Linked DNA regions of Homo sapiens: all the other regions are linked to region 1. The links come from fine-mapping of genetic effects on gene expression. A gene starts in region 1. Each other region holds a variant in brackets. All regions are shown on one strand. Distances are from middle to middle.

What was found. PIP is the estimated chance that this variant, and not a neighbour inherited with it, causes the effect. A credible set is the group of variants that fine-mapping cannot tell apart.
Region 2: its variant is the best candidate, but not a certain one, in a credible set for the expression of LINC01366 in whole blood (TOPMed, PIP 0.81).
Region 3: its variant is the best candidate, but not a certain one, in a credible set for the expression of LINC01366 in tibial artery (GTEx, PIP 0.68).

Annotation. Positions count from the first base shown.
Region 1 is chr5:170,328,272-170,333,497 of GRCh38, reverse strand. LINC01366 (long intergenic non-protein coding RNA 1366) reads right to left here and starts at 2,105. Exons shown (of 2, transcript NR_108025.1): 1 at 1,921-2,105; 2 at 1-364. RefSeq lists enhancers at 1-37, 1-803, 1,869-2,038, 1,603-2,802.
Region 2 is chr5:170,338,893-170,344,118 of GRCh38, reverse strand. No RefSeq gene overlaps it. Among named protein-coding and RNA genes, the nearest start is that of LINC01366, 10 kb to the right of the region's middle. RefSeq lists an enhancer at 4,691-4,900. The variant G/T (reference allele first, on the strand shown) is at 2,886.
Region 3 is chr5:170,376,012-170,381,237 of GRCh38, reverse strand. KCNMB1 (potassium calcium-activated channel subfamily M regulatory beta subunit 1) reads left to right here. Exons shown (of 4, transcript NM_004137.4): 4 at 2,265-5,226. The coding sequence ends at 2,534. It also overlaps a transcript of KCNIP1 not described here. Among named protein-coding and RNA genes, the nearest start is that of KCNMB1, 11 kb to the left of the region's middle. The variant G/A (reference allele first, on the strand shown) is at 2,096.

The sequences.
Region 1 (5,226 bases):
ATCACCCCAGGACACATGCTGGAAGATGTTCTCTTTTCTAATAAACCATCTACTAAGAATATCCGTTAGTCATGTTCTCTTTTCTCCTGAAAGTCAGGCGTGGGTGTCTGCCTAATGTCCGGGTCCAGTACAGTGTCTTCTGTGTGCTGAAAGACAGTCGGAGTTTCTCTTCTTCCTGTGGTTTTGTGGGCAGTGTCGTTTTGTGCCAACCTGCTGTCTGGGACTGATGAGCGCTCACCCAGCCACCCTGAGACTTGGTGGTGGACAGATGCACCCTGCTTCCTGAGATAGGTGCTGGGACCCACAGGGTGTTGAACAGATCCCTCTGGTCATGAAAATGGCCCTCTGGCAGCCTCTCAGTGACCTGTGTAAACCAAAAATAAAATTCTAAGTCCCCCAACCATCTGAATGGACCCCTCGCCTCGGCCAATAGCCTTCCAAAGTTAACCTGAAAAACTAGTGCAAACCGTGGTGGGAAGGGAGGGTCGAACGTGCCTCATTATTTCCTGCTCCCTTTTGGAACTCAGGCACAACTGACCAGCATTAACATTAAAACAGACCTTAGGATTGACAAAGCTGATTCTTTGTAGCAATAAGACACCAAATTCCAGCCTGGCTGTAGTATAGCATCACATGACAGAGAGCAGGCCCTGAAAAAAAAAAATCAAAGTATTTTGCCCCAAGTTATGTTTATTTGCTGTATCTCAAAATAGTCCTGCAAAGCTGTCTCTTGTGGGGAAAATCTATATTTCGAAGAGAATCCCCTTCCTTTTCGTGCTCCAGGAGAGAATTAATTCTGATAAGAAACATTTACAACCTATTCTCTCTGAAGCCTGCTACCTGGGGCTTCCTCTGCATAATGGGAACCCTGGTCTCCACAACCTCTCATCTTAACCCAGACATTCTCTTCTGTTGATTCTAGGTCTTTAGATGATAATACAACTTTTTCAACCAATTGTCAATCAGAAAATCTTTGAATGTATCTATGACTTGAAGCCTCTGCTTTGAGTTGTCCTGCCTTCCCGGACCAAACCAACGTACATTTTCTATGTATTGATTTATTTCTTGTATCTCCCTAATATATATAAAACCAAACTGTAACCTGACCACCTTGGGCAGGATCTCCTGAGGTCTGTGTCACGGGCTATTGGTCACTCATATTTGGCTCAGAATAAATCTCCAAGTATTTTATAGAGTTTGACTGTTTTTGTAGACACCTGGGACAGGAACTCTTGGCAGAGCAGACCCCTGGAGGCAGCACCCCTGCTGCTGTGCCTGCTTTCAAAACCCCATGGCTCGTCCTTCGTCCCCTCCTCTCTGTCTCTCTGTGACTTGAAGAAGGATGAAAGGCGGCCTGCAGGTGGACCACAAAAGTGGGAAGCATCATTCCCACCCAAGAAAGGAAAGAGAACAGAAGACGCCTGATCAGAGCCTTCCTGAGGTCTCATCTCCCCTATCTCCGGGGAGCTGAGAACCACCCCCAAGGATTTGGTGGGTCCCCTCCCCAACAGGCCCCTCCACCTCTGGTGAAAGAGCTCTGCCCACTTCTCTGCTTAGTCTGAGCTGATAGGAGGGAAAAGGAGAGCACTGTATGAGTCACAGGTCTCATTACCTCCCCTCATAGCCCAGGGGAAGGGGAGATGGCAGAGGCGGGTAGCAGGCAGGGCTGGGGATGTGCCATGGGGTTCCCCTGGCTTCTCCCCACAGAGGCTGAACCTCCTGGGGGAACATTTGAAAGCCTCAGAGACCAGCTATGGTGCCAAATACTAATGGCCTCAGTTTCCCTTCCTATCCCCCACCTTTGCACGAGTGTGAGTACTCACCCCCCGTCAACTATGTGACCTTGGGAAGACCCCTCTGAAAGACCTCACACCATTCATGTTAGTCCTCCTTCCCCACCTCCCCACACCATCCACACACCACATGCATCAAGCCCCACCGACTTCAGTCCTCAGCATCCTCGCCCCTCAAGAGGGCTGAGAAAAGGAACCATGCTCTTCACGAGCCACCATACAGACGTGGGAATTCCCCTGAAGGTCAGAACCACAGCTCCTTCTCAGCAACTCCTTCTGGCCCCAGGAGTGGGAGGTCTCATGGTCCCAAACAAAACGGAATTGCCTGTGACTCATACCCAGCCCTGCCTATTGAGAAATCTACTTCCGGTGTTGGGGGTGTGGGGTGGTGCGGAACTGGAGCCAGGAAGGGGTGTGTTTGTGTGTGTGTGTGTGTGTGTGTGTGTGTGTGTGTGTGTTCCTCAGCTTCCTGGCTACTGAGTCTTCTCAAGACCAGAGCTCCCTGGCTTTTCAGAAAACCAGCTCTCAAATCATCTAGATCATCTATCCCCCTTACTAGGTAGTCCAGTGTGGCCCAAAGCCTATTTGGACTTTTTTTTTCTTAAAGGAGAAGAAAAAAAGAACCAAGTGAAAACAGAAAATAATTCAGCCACGTGAAGCTGAATTATTATAGCTGCCCCATGTGAGTCGGGAAAGAGAAGGGTGCTTCCTAAAACATGTTAGACAAGGCACTCTGCGGCTTAGTCCCATCCTCCACGCCCCGAAGTCTGCAGCTCTCTCATCATCTTTGCTGCTTGAGTTTTGAGAGGGGCCCAGTGTGCCTTCTGCAAAGCCTGTGCCACTTGCTTCGAAATGTGGCTGTCTCTGGAGGGTTCTCACGAGTCCCACGCTGGATCCTGAGGGCACAGAACTGAAGCTGTTTCAGTTTTTGGTTTGCATGTTGTTGTTACTGTCGCAAAAGGGAAATATCAACTTGGATATTAACAAAATGGAGAACTGAGACCCACCCTGCGATTTTTGCCATTTTCTCATTTTGGTAGAACAAGAGCAAAGAACAAAGGCGCCTTCTAATGGCATAACCTAACTTTTAAGGTAACAGCATCATTATATGTTTAAAGCAAGAAAAGAAGAGGAAATAATGTTTGTCAAAATCTATCATGTGTCAGACATTTTACCGAACTTTCTCCCCTAAGCCCAATGACATAGGTACTTGTGTCCCCATTCCATGATGGGGAAATGGGGGCTAAGAAAGGTGCGGTGACTTGGTTAAGGTCATACGTGTAGAGATGAATGCTAGAGAAAGGATTCAAAATCAGGTCTGGCTGTTGCTGAGTTTCCTGTATTTTCCAAGTTCTTACACTTTCCCTAACTTCCCTGCCTTCATCTCTGTCCTCTCCTCTGCTTACTCTGTTCTTTTCTGTTCCTCAAACACACAAAGCTCATTCCCACATCAGGACTTTCTGTCTCTCTTTGTTTGGCTGCTTCCTTTCTTATCATTTGGGACTCATCACAAAGGCCACCTTCTTGTAAGGTGACCTGACCATTCCTTTTAAAGTAGTACCCTCTGGGATATTGCTCTGTTAATTTACTTTACAGTACTTCTCACTCACCTACTTTGTTTATTTCCGTAGTCTGTGACCCCCTACCCACCCCTCACTGACCCTGCAACAGACACTAGAATGTAGGGCTAGTGAGAGCAGAGGCCTCTTCTTTCTTGTTCTTCTCTATATCCAAAGAGTCTGGAGAAATGGCTGGGACATTGAGGACATTCAGAAATATTTGTTGGATGGATAGGTGGGTGGGTAGATGGATGGATAAACAGGTGGGTGAGTAGACGGATGAGTGAGTGGGTAGATGGACAGGTGGATGGGTAGATGGATGAGTAGATGGATGGATGGACGGATGGGTAGGTAAATGAATAAAATGGTAGATGGATGGACAGGTGGGTGGGTAGATGGATGAGTAGATGGTTAAATGGACAAGTGGGTAGGTAGATGGATGAAAGAGTAGATGGATGGTTGGATGGGTGAGTAGGTAGATGGATTAGTGAGTAGATAGATGAATGGATGGATGGGTAGATGGATGGATGGATGAAGATGAATGAGTTGGTGAATGTACGTATGTATGAATGTATGGTGTCTACTATATGGCAGGTTCCAGTGAGGATGTAGAGATGAATAAAATGATGTCTCTTTGATCCAAATGTTTGCTTTGAAATGAGGGAGACCTTCTCAATAGTCAAGTAGTTGCATCAAAGTATATTAGGTGTTCTGAGGGAATATCAGATCTCAAAAGCACATTTGGGATAGAAATGAGGAAGGGATCCATTTTTGCTGCTGGAGGGTGATCAGAAAATGCTCTATATGGGAGATAACACTGTATCTGATCCACGAAGGATAAGTGGTTATTATTCAGGTAATCAATGAATTTAAAAGCTTCCCTGCAGCCTAGGAAAAGGGAAAGAAGCTGAACACAGTCTTAGAGTCTAAAAACTGCAAGCTATTTGGTGTGATGGGACAAGAGGTGTGAAAGATCTGGTCTTGATTGCTACTGCATATTCAGTGTTTAGCATTCAATTACCCTACTATTGGCACTTCATAATAGTACTCAAGAATAGGTCCTCAATAATTATTTGTTGAAGAAAGGAACAAAAGGAGAGCACAGGGAAAAGTAAAGCTGGCAAGATTGACCTGTGCTGGGTACTGCTGGGCTAAGGAATGTAGATGCTAGTCAGAGGAAAATGGACCATCACAGAAGGGTTGATGAGATGCATGTTTCTGATGGTCACCCTGCTAAGCACAGGAACTGTGTTGGGGAAAGTCCAGGAAGTGGCAGGAATAGACAGAGTGGACTATGGCTATGGTCCGAGTGTGGGATGTTGAGGACCTGAGCTAATCAGGATAGTGTACGTGAAAAGGTAAAGAGGGATTCTAGAGACTTGAGGAAGGTAGAACTAGAGTGCTATCCATGGTTCCATATGGATGAAGAAGGGAAGAGGGAGGGAATATAAAGAGAAGAATTTTCCATGCCCCTGCTGGAATGACTAGATGCTAGCCACTGGAATACAAAATGTATGGGGTGGGGTTCACCATGAAGCTAATGAAGGTTATGTGCGAGAATCCCTCCCTTTCACATCCACTATCAAGGTCCTAAACCTACTCTTGTATTCATTGTTTTCTTTTTATTTATTTTTTCCTAAAGAGCCCCTTCCTGGCCAATTATAGAATCCTCAGGCTCCACCAAGCCTGGATCTTCCCCTGGAAATACAAGGAGAACAGTTTGGGGGAAAGGATTCCATTTGGATTGTGAATTCCATTTGGGGCATGGTAGGTTAGAGGTGGATGAAAAACCTTGAGGTGGAGATGTTCTGCAAGGAGCACAGTGTGGGACAGGGCTTGAATCCTGGCTTCATGCTGTGTGGACATGGGCAAGT
Region 2 (5,226 bases), 11 kb before region 1:
TGGTCTGAATAAGAAACGTTTGTCATCTATTGCGTTTGGGGCAGCCGCCAATGAGACTTCATCTACATAATAAGAACCTTGGTCTCTATAACCCCTTATCTTAACCCAGACACTCATTTCTATCGATTCCAAGTCTTTGGATAACAACTTAACTCTCAACCAATTGCCAACCAGAAAATCTTTGAATCCACCCATGACCTAAAAGCCACTCCCCACCTCTGAAGTTGTCCCGCCTTTCTGGACCCAACCAATGTATGCCTCACATGTATTGACTGATGTCTTCAGTCTCCCTCAAACATGTAAAACCAAGATGTAACCCAGCCACCTCGGGCACATGTTCTCAGGACCTCTTGAGGCTGTGTCATGGGTTATGGTCCATAAGTTTGGCAAAATAAGCTTCTGAATTGACTGACCCCTGTCTCAGATACTTTTTGTTTTACAAAGGAAAGAATGCCCACCTCCTCATTGTCGGACAGTTGGCCCGTCCCTCTCTTCAGGAAAGTAGGCTCTCTCCTGCCTCCTGTGTACTTTGGGCTCCAGATGTTCCAGTAGCCACACTCTGTTAAACAAATCCACCTGAATATGCTTGAAATCTGGGTCTGTTCAGGACCTCACCTAGTTTAGAGCAATACTGAACCTGGATAATAAGGGTTTTGGAGCCTATAGGAGTAGAATTCAAAGCGTGCTTTGAGGTATGAATCACGATGGTTGCCTTGATAAACAACAGCCATCAGAGGACACAGAAAGGTAAAGAGGGCTTAGAAAAGAGGAGAGGGAGGCTGGCCTCAAGTTATTGCAAACAGCCATAGGGATTTTAGGAATACGCAGGTCTAATATTTGACTTGAAGTTGTTTGTGTAACCATTCTTTAGCTATGTGCACATAACCCAGTTATTCCAACCCATTAAGTCTTTATTTCCTTATCTTTAAAATGCAGCTAAGACCCCCTACCTAGTGGAACTGATGCCTGCATTGAACAGGGGGGTGACCAACTGCCCTGGTTTTCTCAGGACTAAGGGGTTTCCAGGGACACAAGATATTTTGTGCTAAACAGAGATAATCCATAGCACAGAAAAGCCCTTGAACAGAGCACCAGACTCTCCTAACAACAATAATAATGCCAGTGGAGAGCCTGCATTATTTTAACCAAAGCTCTATACTGCTTTCAGATTTGTGGTCACTTGCATTTTACATTTTACAACATACATTGTCACAAATGACCCCCAATCCTTTGTGGCACTAAGGTCTGGTGACAGAAACAGTAAAGGGGTAATTAGTTACAGGTATCCAGTCCCTTTGGCTTTTATGTTTCCTTCCCCTGTCCCCCCACCCATCTGGGTCTTGTCCCCAGAGATCCATTGATGGAGAATATAAGAGCTGCCCTGCTGTTCACAGTCAGACAATGGACCATCTCCTAACACCCTCAAGGCAAGCCACCAAGAAAGGGTGAAGAAAGGCCTCATGATGAGGTCAAACCACAGGTAGCTCTGGGCCTATGTCAGAGCAATCCCTCCAGAAATTCATCCAGAGCCGGTGAAGGAGGGAACTTGGAGAGGAAGTATATCGGTTAAGTAAGAGTCCCTTTAAATATTCATCTCCATTTTGGTAATTACATCACTGCCTGGATGGGCTGGCAGAGTCCTGGGCGGCTAATGAGCTGACTGGAGACGATGGCAAGTTTGCCCTGGGTCCCAGAGTGGGGTCCCTGAGTAGGCACTGTTTCCCACACTCTGGTGTAATGCTCACTGCAGATCCGAGAAAACCACCCTTGTCATTGTGCCCAGGGCCTCAGATGACGAAATCAACTCAATTCTTAGTGGAATTCCAGCCCAGTGCCAAGCTGGAGCGTTCTGGGAAGGGCAAGAGGCAAGAGGCACTCCAGATGAGAATCCAGGCTTTGGGGTGACTTTACTTCATTTTTCTCCATCTGGCCTGCAAGCTTGCTCACGACAGAGAAGGCTTCTCTTGCTCCTTTTATGCACATGCCTGCTGCACCACCCCTGTCCAGGTTATCTCCCTGCCTGAAGAATGCCAATATCCTTCACTTTTGTATCATCCTCACATTCCTGTGAGCAAAGGAAAGGCAGGCCCCTTCACCTGTACAAGCCTCAATTTCTTTGTCTGTGATATGGTTGGAAAAAGAGCTTCCAGGTTGTATATATCCAGGTGAAGTGTAAATGAAGTAATGTACGGTCTCCCACCATATAATGACATTTCAGTCAACACTTGACCTCATATCCGAAGGTGGTGCAATAAGACTATACTACTGTATTTTCACTCTACCTTCTCTATGTTTGGCTGTGTTTAGATAGACGAATACTCACCGTTGTGTTACAGCCATCTGCAGTATTCAGGACAGTCCCATGCTGTGCAGGTTTGTAGCGCAGGAGCAACAGGCTGTACCAGAGAGCCCAGGTGTGTTGTCGAATATGCCATCTAGGTGTGCATACGTGCACTCTGTGATGTTCACACAACAGTGGATTCACCTAAGGACACATTTCTGAGAACGCATCCCTGCTGTTAAGTGATGCATGACTGTATGAGAATTTCATTCCTAATCGTAAATTGTTGCATGGGCATGCAGTGGCATACTGAGTGAGAGGCGGTGCCTTGTGGTGGTGAAGAGCCCAGTTTCCATACCTTCCAGCTATGTGATTTTACACAAACTGAACCTCATAAGCCTCAGTTTCCCCATCTGTAAAATGGGAATACTAAAGTTACCTACATCATATGATGTAGTTAATGAGAAATGTGTGTAAGGACCCACCATGTAATAAGGGCTTGGACCATGGTAGCTGTCATTATTGTCACTATTGTCATAAAGATGATCATGAATCCTACTAGAGGCATGAAGGAACACAGACCCGTGACAATCCCCTCCAAGGG[G/T]TTATATCCCAGAATCACCAGGAGTCTGGCATTCTTGCCCACAGCTCTACTCCCAAGATCCTCGTATCTCTGTCCCTGGAAGTGAGTCTGGGAGTTGGATGTCCTTGGACTACAGAGCTTCCCTGCAGGAGGGCAGAGGACTGGACACAAGTGGACTTGAGGAGTTCCCAGGCTCCTTTGCATCTGTGGCTTCAGCTCAGGTTGGGAAGGGTATGGGTTGTGTGTCTCCAAAGCGTCAATAAAGGACTTAATCACAGGACAAACCTCTATTAAGATCCTGCCATGTCAGTGGAAAAATGCTTGAGCTTGGCTCCATGCCTTCCATCAGGGAGCTCAGGCCTTCAAAATGGCTGCGAGGGGCCGGGTGTGGTGGCTCACGCCTGTAATCCTAGCACTTTGGGAGGCAGAGGCGGATGGATCACCTGAGGTCAAGAGTTTGAGACTAGCCTGGCCAACATGGTGAAACCCTGTCTCTACTAAAAATACAAAAATTAGCCGGGCATGGTGGTGGGTGCCTGTAATCCCAGTTACTTGGGAAGCTGAGGCAGGAGAATCACTTGAACCCAGGAGGCAGAGGTGGCAGTGAGCCGCGATCGTGCTACTGTACTCCAGCCTAAGCAACAGAGCAAAAACTCTGTCTCAAAACAACAACAACAAAATGGCTGGGAGGTAGAACAATGAGAGGCATTGGAGCCCCTCTCTAAAGCCCCCCACGGGACCCTCTGCAGTGGTGTCTGTCCCTTCCAGTTCTCGCTCTTTCCTGTCTCTTACCCATATGGATGGAAGGTCCGGAGATAAACAAAAATGTTGTCAGGACAAAGAAATTACTATCTCAACAGCTGGCACCTGCCTTCCTCTTCTGGAAGGAATTTTGTTTGTTGAGGGATGGATCATGCTGGTCACCTTGATAAACAACAGCTGTCGGAGGACACAGAAAGATGAAGAGGGCTTAGAAAGAGGAGAGGGAGGCTGGCCTCCAGTTATTGAAAAGAGCCAAAGGGCTTTTTAGCAATTTGCAGGTCTATTATTTGACTTGAAGTTGTTTGTGTGGCTACGAAGCAACCCCCTTTGTCTCCTCAGACCTCCTGTGAAGTCAGTTACACACAAGGGACTGGTCAGGTTTTTAAAAGTGAAAATTCAGAAGAGAGATTGAATGAAAATTCAGATGCTTTTGATGCAGAATGGACCAATACACAAAGGAAGCCAGTCAGCTAAACTGGCCTAGTTTAGGGAAGCAGGCACTCAGGGCTCCAGGTGACTGGGGAAACCCTACCCTACACATACTACCACCTGCCTTAACACACACACACACACACACACCCACACACACATACACCTATACAATAGCAGATAAATCAGCAAAAGAAGGGGTCCACTATTTGGTGTGAGGACATTCTGGCAAAATCCACTTGAGTTTTATAGGATAAGGCATCTTAGCTGACTTCCGGATTTTAAAAATAATAGATACTAACATCAACTTGCACACTATACTGTCCAAAGTGCTTTCCCATATTTTCCTCCCTTTTAATCCCAGCAATTTTAGTTTCCATTTTCCGACAAGGAGACTGCAGCCCTGAGAAGTCACACTGCTCACTCACAGTGACACAGGCCAGGGTCTGCTCCCCACTGCTGTGGGCATCTTTGCTGACTCAGCAGAGCTCAAGCATCTGGTTGCAATAGTTTTCTGATCTTTAGGATGCTAAATAGCTCCAAAAATACTTTAGGGTGATTTCCAGGAGGCTAAGCTAAGTCTGAAAATGGGGCTCCATCTCTGTCATGACCTACCCCTCACCCCCAACCAGGGCAGGAGCTGGGACAAACCCAACCCAAGGCCCAGCAAGGGGAGCAGAGTGTGTGCTTGGTCTGGCAGAGAAAGGATGGGAAGGAGGCTACCTCCAGCAGGGAGGTCTGCGGGGGATCACATGCGCCCAGACCCCAGAGATCTGCATGTGTACAGATGGGGGAATTTTGGGTTCAGAGCCAAGGACCTCAGAAGAGTGAGCATTTCAAAAGATCTCTGCTGGGGAGCCGGGACTGCCCTTGGGACCCACAGAAATGGACTATTTTTGACCAGGACTCACTCAATGCCACTTCCTCTTTCTTGATGGGGAGAAAGTCCTGCAGAGGTCACCCTGTGCCTAGGTTGGAGGTGTTTTCTGTGCTGCCCCCACTGCCTCACTAGAGGGAGCTCAAGCTCCCACTTCTACCATCAGCCCACCTGGCCAGGTGAGGTTTCCCTTCTGCCCCAGAGAGGATGTGGGTCAGGGGGCTTGGCAGAGGCAGCTCTCCCTCCCAGTGATGGGAGGTCTCAGTGAATTTTGGGAAATGTTTTCAGGAGTCA
Region 3 (5,226 bases), 48 kb before region 1:
AGAAAGGATGCATTCAGGCCCCGGCTTCTGGGTTTGGCCATGAAGAGTGAATTCCTGCCCAGTGTCTTGCCAAACAGGCCCAGCATAAAAGATCCAGAGGAACCCTGAGCAGGCAGAGGATACACTAGGCCCAGGATGGACAGAAGCCTCTACTTCAGAGCTCATCCATAGACCTCTTTTTAAGAAGGTAAAGAAGGAGCTGTTGTTGCAATTTCATAGATAAGTCAAAACATATTATTATTAATAATAGCATCTTCCACTTTTTTGAGTTCTTATCGTGTGCTGGGCTTCTGTGCTCAGTGCTTTACATGCATCATCTCATTTAATCCCCATGACAGTTCTCCTAGGCAGGTAGCCTCACAAACCCATTTTACAAGGCCCAGTGAGGTTGTGGCAGTTGCCAAGGTCACACAGCTCAGAACTCAGGCCTGTCTGACTCCATAGCCACACTGCTATTTAAGGAGCTAGGTTAGCCAAGGTCACAGTCAGAGGCATTGGAGAGACTCAGGCCAGGCCCCCTCACCGTCAGCTCAGGATGCTGGATTATATGCTACTGAGGACCTGGCAGTGTCCAACAGCTCTGAATGCCAGATTCCTGAGGAGCCAGCGTCTCCCCAGCCTCAGCTACTCCCTGGCTGGCTGGGGCCCTAGATCTGAGTGCAGCATCTGCATTTCCCAGGCTGTGAGAACTACAGTGCAACCCTCCTCTGTGTTGCTGGAGTGAATGCCCTCAGGGCAGGCAGCTTCCAGGGTGGCACCTCATATAAATCCAGGGAGTGGCCGAGGCCTGCAAGGAATCTGGCTCAACACCTGCCATTTGGGTCTCAGTTTTACACATTTTGATCTTGCACATGATTTCACTAGGGCAAAATTAAGTGCATGAAGGAATCACACATTCCTGGGTCTCGCCCTCAGTGATGCAGAGTGGGTAGGGACCTGGGCTATGGGGGCCCTGTAGGTATTCTGCTGCAGATGGGGGCACCACACTTGCAGCTCAGAACAGAGATAAAACCAGATAAAACTCCGCTTTATGACTGCTTTGCATCACTTTCCAGCTGGCCTCATCTGAACAGGGCAGAAAGTTCCTAATAACAATAATCAACGTCAGAATTAAATGTGTGTCATGCTCTGCTGGCACAAAACTCTTTTCAATGCATTCTTTCTTTCCTTTGGATCCCAGTGTCAAATACCCGCTTGCCAACATAGTTTGTTTGCTGTACACAGGTTGAAACTGCAAAGGTTTTCAATTTTAAATTTAGCTAATATTTTACTTTTTTTTTTTTTTTGAAATGGGATCTCGCTTTGTTGCCTTACCTGGAGTGTAGTTGCGAGATCATAGCTCACTGCAGCCTCCAACTCCTGGGCTCAGGTGATCCTCCCACCTCAGTCTCCTGTGTAGCTGGGACTACAGGTACACCACCATGCCCACCTGGATAATTTTTAACTTTTTTTGTAGAGATAAAGTCTTGCTATGTTGCCTAGGCTAGTCTCGAACTCCTGGGCTCAAGGGATCCTTCCCCTTCGGCTTCCCAAAGTGTTAGGATTACAGGTGTGATCTGGTTTCTAACTTCTCTTAAAGTGTTGGAGGTCTGGCTATTATAGATCTTCTGGATGGCCTGACATCCATTGCCTGGAGGGAGTGGTGACTGCCTGTCTGGAGGCAGCTGGCTCTCTCCCTATTGACAGGCCCTGCCACACCCTGGCAATTCTTCCTGGCACCAAGGCAAGAGTCAGTGGGCACCTGTCATCTCATTGCTTTGCCTGCTTCACCCTCTGACAATACCTTCATGAGCCCTGTAGGCAATTGAGCACATGATCTCGATTTCAAATACACAGCCCACTTGGCCTGTGTCCCTCCCTGGTTTCCTTAGATAGCTCTGTGTGAAGTCCTTCTTTCATAATATCCTTTGAAACCGATATTCACCCATTTAAGTGATGAAGCTTCAGGGCTCAGAAAGAGTGAGAAATTTGCCAAAAATTCTACAGCCAATCCAAGCAGAGCCAGGACTCCAAGGTAGGACCTGCGCCCAGGTGTGTAGCCTGTACCCCGAGCAGCTCCAGCACCGCCATCCACACACAAGACACAAATGAGAGC[G/A]TGCTCTCCAGACCTGTACAGCGCATGGCCTGCCAAGCTTTAGACCAAAGCCCCGACTCCAATCCAGGGGCCCGACTACAAAGCTGGTATTTTTCTTTACTCCATATCAAGCCCTTGGCTAAGAAATGGGGATTTCCAAGCCCACAGCTGCTCTTGTTTCTCCCCACAGTGCTCCTACATCCCAGGCAGCGTGGACAATTACCAGACGGCCCGGGCCGACGTGGAGAAGGTCAGAGCCAAATTCCAAGAGCAGCAGGTCTTCTACTGCTTCTCCGCACCTCGGGGGAACGAAACCAGCGTCCTATTCCAGCGCCTCTACGGGCCCCAGGCCCTCCTCTTCTCCCTCTTCTGGCCCACCTTCCTGCTGACCGGTGGCCTCCTCATTATCGCCATGGTGAAGAGCAACCAGTACCTGTCCATCCTGGCGGCCCAGAAGTAGAGCCATCCATCCATGCCATACCACTTGTCAGGGCACAGGGGACTGGCTGGGCCCCCAGGGCTGCTCCCCACTTGCAGCACAATGCCTTCTCCACCTGCCCTCCCACTCTTCCAGTCCAATCCACGCTGTCTTCTGTTGCAGGACTAACCTTTGAGAAATCCTTTTGTGAAGTCATTGCCTGCTCAAGAATGTACAGTGGCTCCCCAATGCCTTGGAGGCCATAAGGCCAGCCAGTTCTAGCTCTCTATTACCTGTCCCCACTCAACTGACTCATACCTGTTTCCGGCTGCATCACTATGTGCCCCACAGAGAACGATGATCGTCACCTCTGTGCCTGAGTTCTCCCTGTTGTCTCAAAGCGGTACCCATCCTCCCCCAGAAGCTGTCCCCAGCGAGCCTCCCTTCTTTGTTTGAATTCTCTAATAAGAGCAACAGCAGCTCCCATTTCTAGAACACATTTACAGTATTACTATTTTCTAGGATATAAAGTGCCATATATATTTTTAATTCCAATATTAATAAATGTATGCCAAACAACAATCAGCTGCAAGGAAACACATGAGAACTCATCAAAATTTTAGCGGTGGGATGGTGGTTAATTTCTGTTTTCTTCCTTATCCCCTTTTTATTTTTGCTGCTTTTCTAAATTTTTGATTATAGGAAGGGTGTGTTTCGTTTGCTTTTAATCAGAAAAGCCATGGTAGATGCCATTTTGGAAAAGTTGAAAGAGTGTGTCCCCCTCACAGAAAAAGATGGAAGTGGGTCTGGGGACGGAGTTGGGTTCCAGTCAGAGACAGGCCATTCAGAACACACAATCTTAAAAACCCCTCTGGGCCGGGCGCGGTGGCTCACTCCTGTAATCCCAGCACTTTGGGAGGCCGAGGCTGGTGGATCACGAGGTCAGGAGATCAAGACCATCCTGGCTAACATGGTGAAACCCCGTCTCTACTAAAAATACAAAAAATTAGCCAGGCGTGGTGGTGGGCACCTGTGGTCCCAGCTACTCAGGAGGCTGAGGCAGGAGAATGGCGTGAACCCGGGGTTCGGAGCTTGCAGTGAGCCGAGATTGTGCCACTGCACTCCAGCCTGGTGATAGAACAAGACTCCGTCTCAAAAAAAAAACAAAAAACAAAAAATGAAAAACAACCCTCTGGAGGAAAGGTCATGATATAGAGGAGGATTTGTTATTTAAATTGAGGGTATGGACTCTGGCACTGAGCCTGCTGGGGAAGCCTATCTCAGATTTGAAAAGGGCAAAATGGGAAGAAGCCATCACCTTTACCATTCCCACTCCAGGAAGTTTTCCTAGAACGATGACTGTCCAAGTGTGGTCCCTGGGCCAGCAGCATCAGGATCCTGTGGCAGCTTGTGAGAAATGCACACTCTCAGGCCCCTGTCCCAGCCCCACCACGCCAGAAGCCCTGCACGGGGTGGGGGTAGCAATGTTCTGTGTTCTAACAATGCGTAGGGGATTCTGTGGCACACCTCGAGCCAGAGAACTACCGGTGTAGGAAGTGAGCGTCCTGTCGCGAGGATTTTCAGAGCAGGTGAGTGACCATTCGGCAGGGCCAGTCCTGAGCTGGGTGTGAAGTTAGGCTGGTGTCTGAAGTTTCTTCCAGTGTTGTGAGTCCAAGATGCAGATCTTGGGTTTGAATCCTGTCTCTACTCTGCCCGATTTCATCTCTTTGATTCTTAGTTTTTTCATCTATAAAAGAAGGACTCTTTCTGGATAGTTGGGAGGGCTGAAGGAATGTTTGACACATCATAGGTGTTTAAAATGGCAACTATAGTTTTTTTTGTTTGTTTTGTGTGTGTGTTTTTTTCTTAACTTTCATTTTAAGTTGCAGGGTACACGTTCAGGTTTGTTACATAGGTACACTTGTGTCAAGGGAGTTTGTTGTGCAGATTATTTCATCACCCAGGTATTAAGTCTAGTACCCATTATTAAAGAAAATGTGGTACGTATACGTCATGGAATATTATGCAGCCATAAAAAGGAAGGAGATCATGTCCTTTGCAGGGACATGGATGGAGCTGGAGGCCAAATATTATCCTTAGCAAACTAACACAGGGACACAAAACTAAATACTGTATATTCTCACTTATAAGTGGGAGCTAAATGATGAAAACACATGGACACAAAGAGGGGAACAACACACACTGAGGCCTATTGGAGGGCGGGAGGTAGGAGGAGGGAGAGGATCAGGGAAAAAGAGCTATTGTTAGTAACAAGAAAAAGTCGGCCGGGCGTGGTGGCTCACACCTGTAATCCCAGCACTTTGGGAGGCCGAGGTGGGCAGATCACGAGGTCAGGAGATCGAGACCATCCTGGCTAACACGGTGAAACCCTGTCTCTACTAAAAAATAGAAAAAATCATAGCCGGGCGTGGTGGTAGCCGCCTGTAGTCCCAGCTGCTCAGGAGGCTGAGGCAGAAGAATGGCGTGAACCCGGGAGGCGGAGCTTGCAGTGAGCCGAGATCGCGCCACGGCACTCCAGCCTGGGTAACAGAGCAAGACTCTGTCTCAAAAAAAAAAAAAAAAAAAAAAAAAAAAGAATAAGTCATGAATACTCAGAAACTTCCAGAAGTTATACTGACAATGTTATCTGGCATGTATGGGTGCTTATTTATTCTGTGCCAGGCACTGTACTAATTAGTTTGCCTTGGAAAAAAAAATGAGATACTCCTGAACC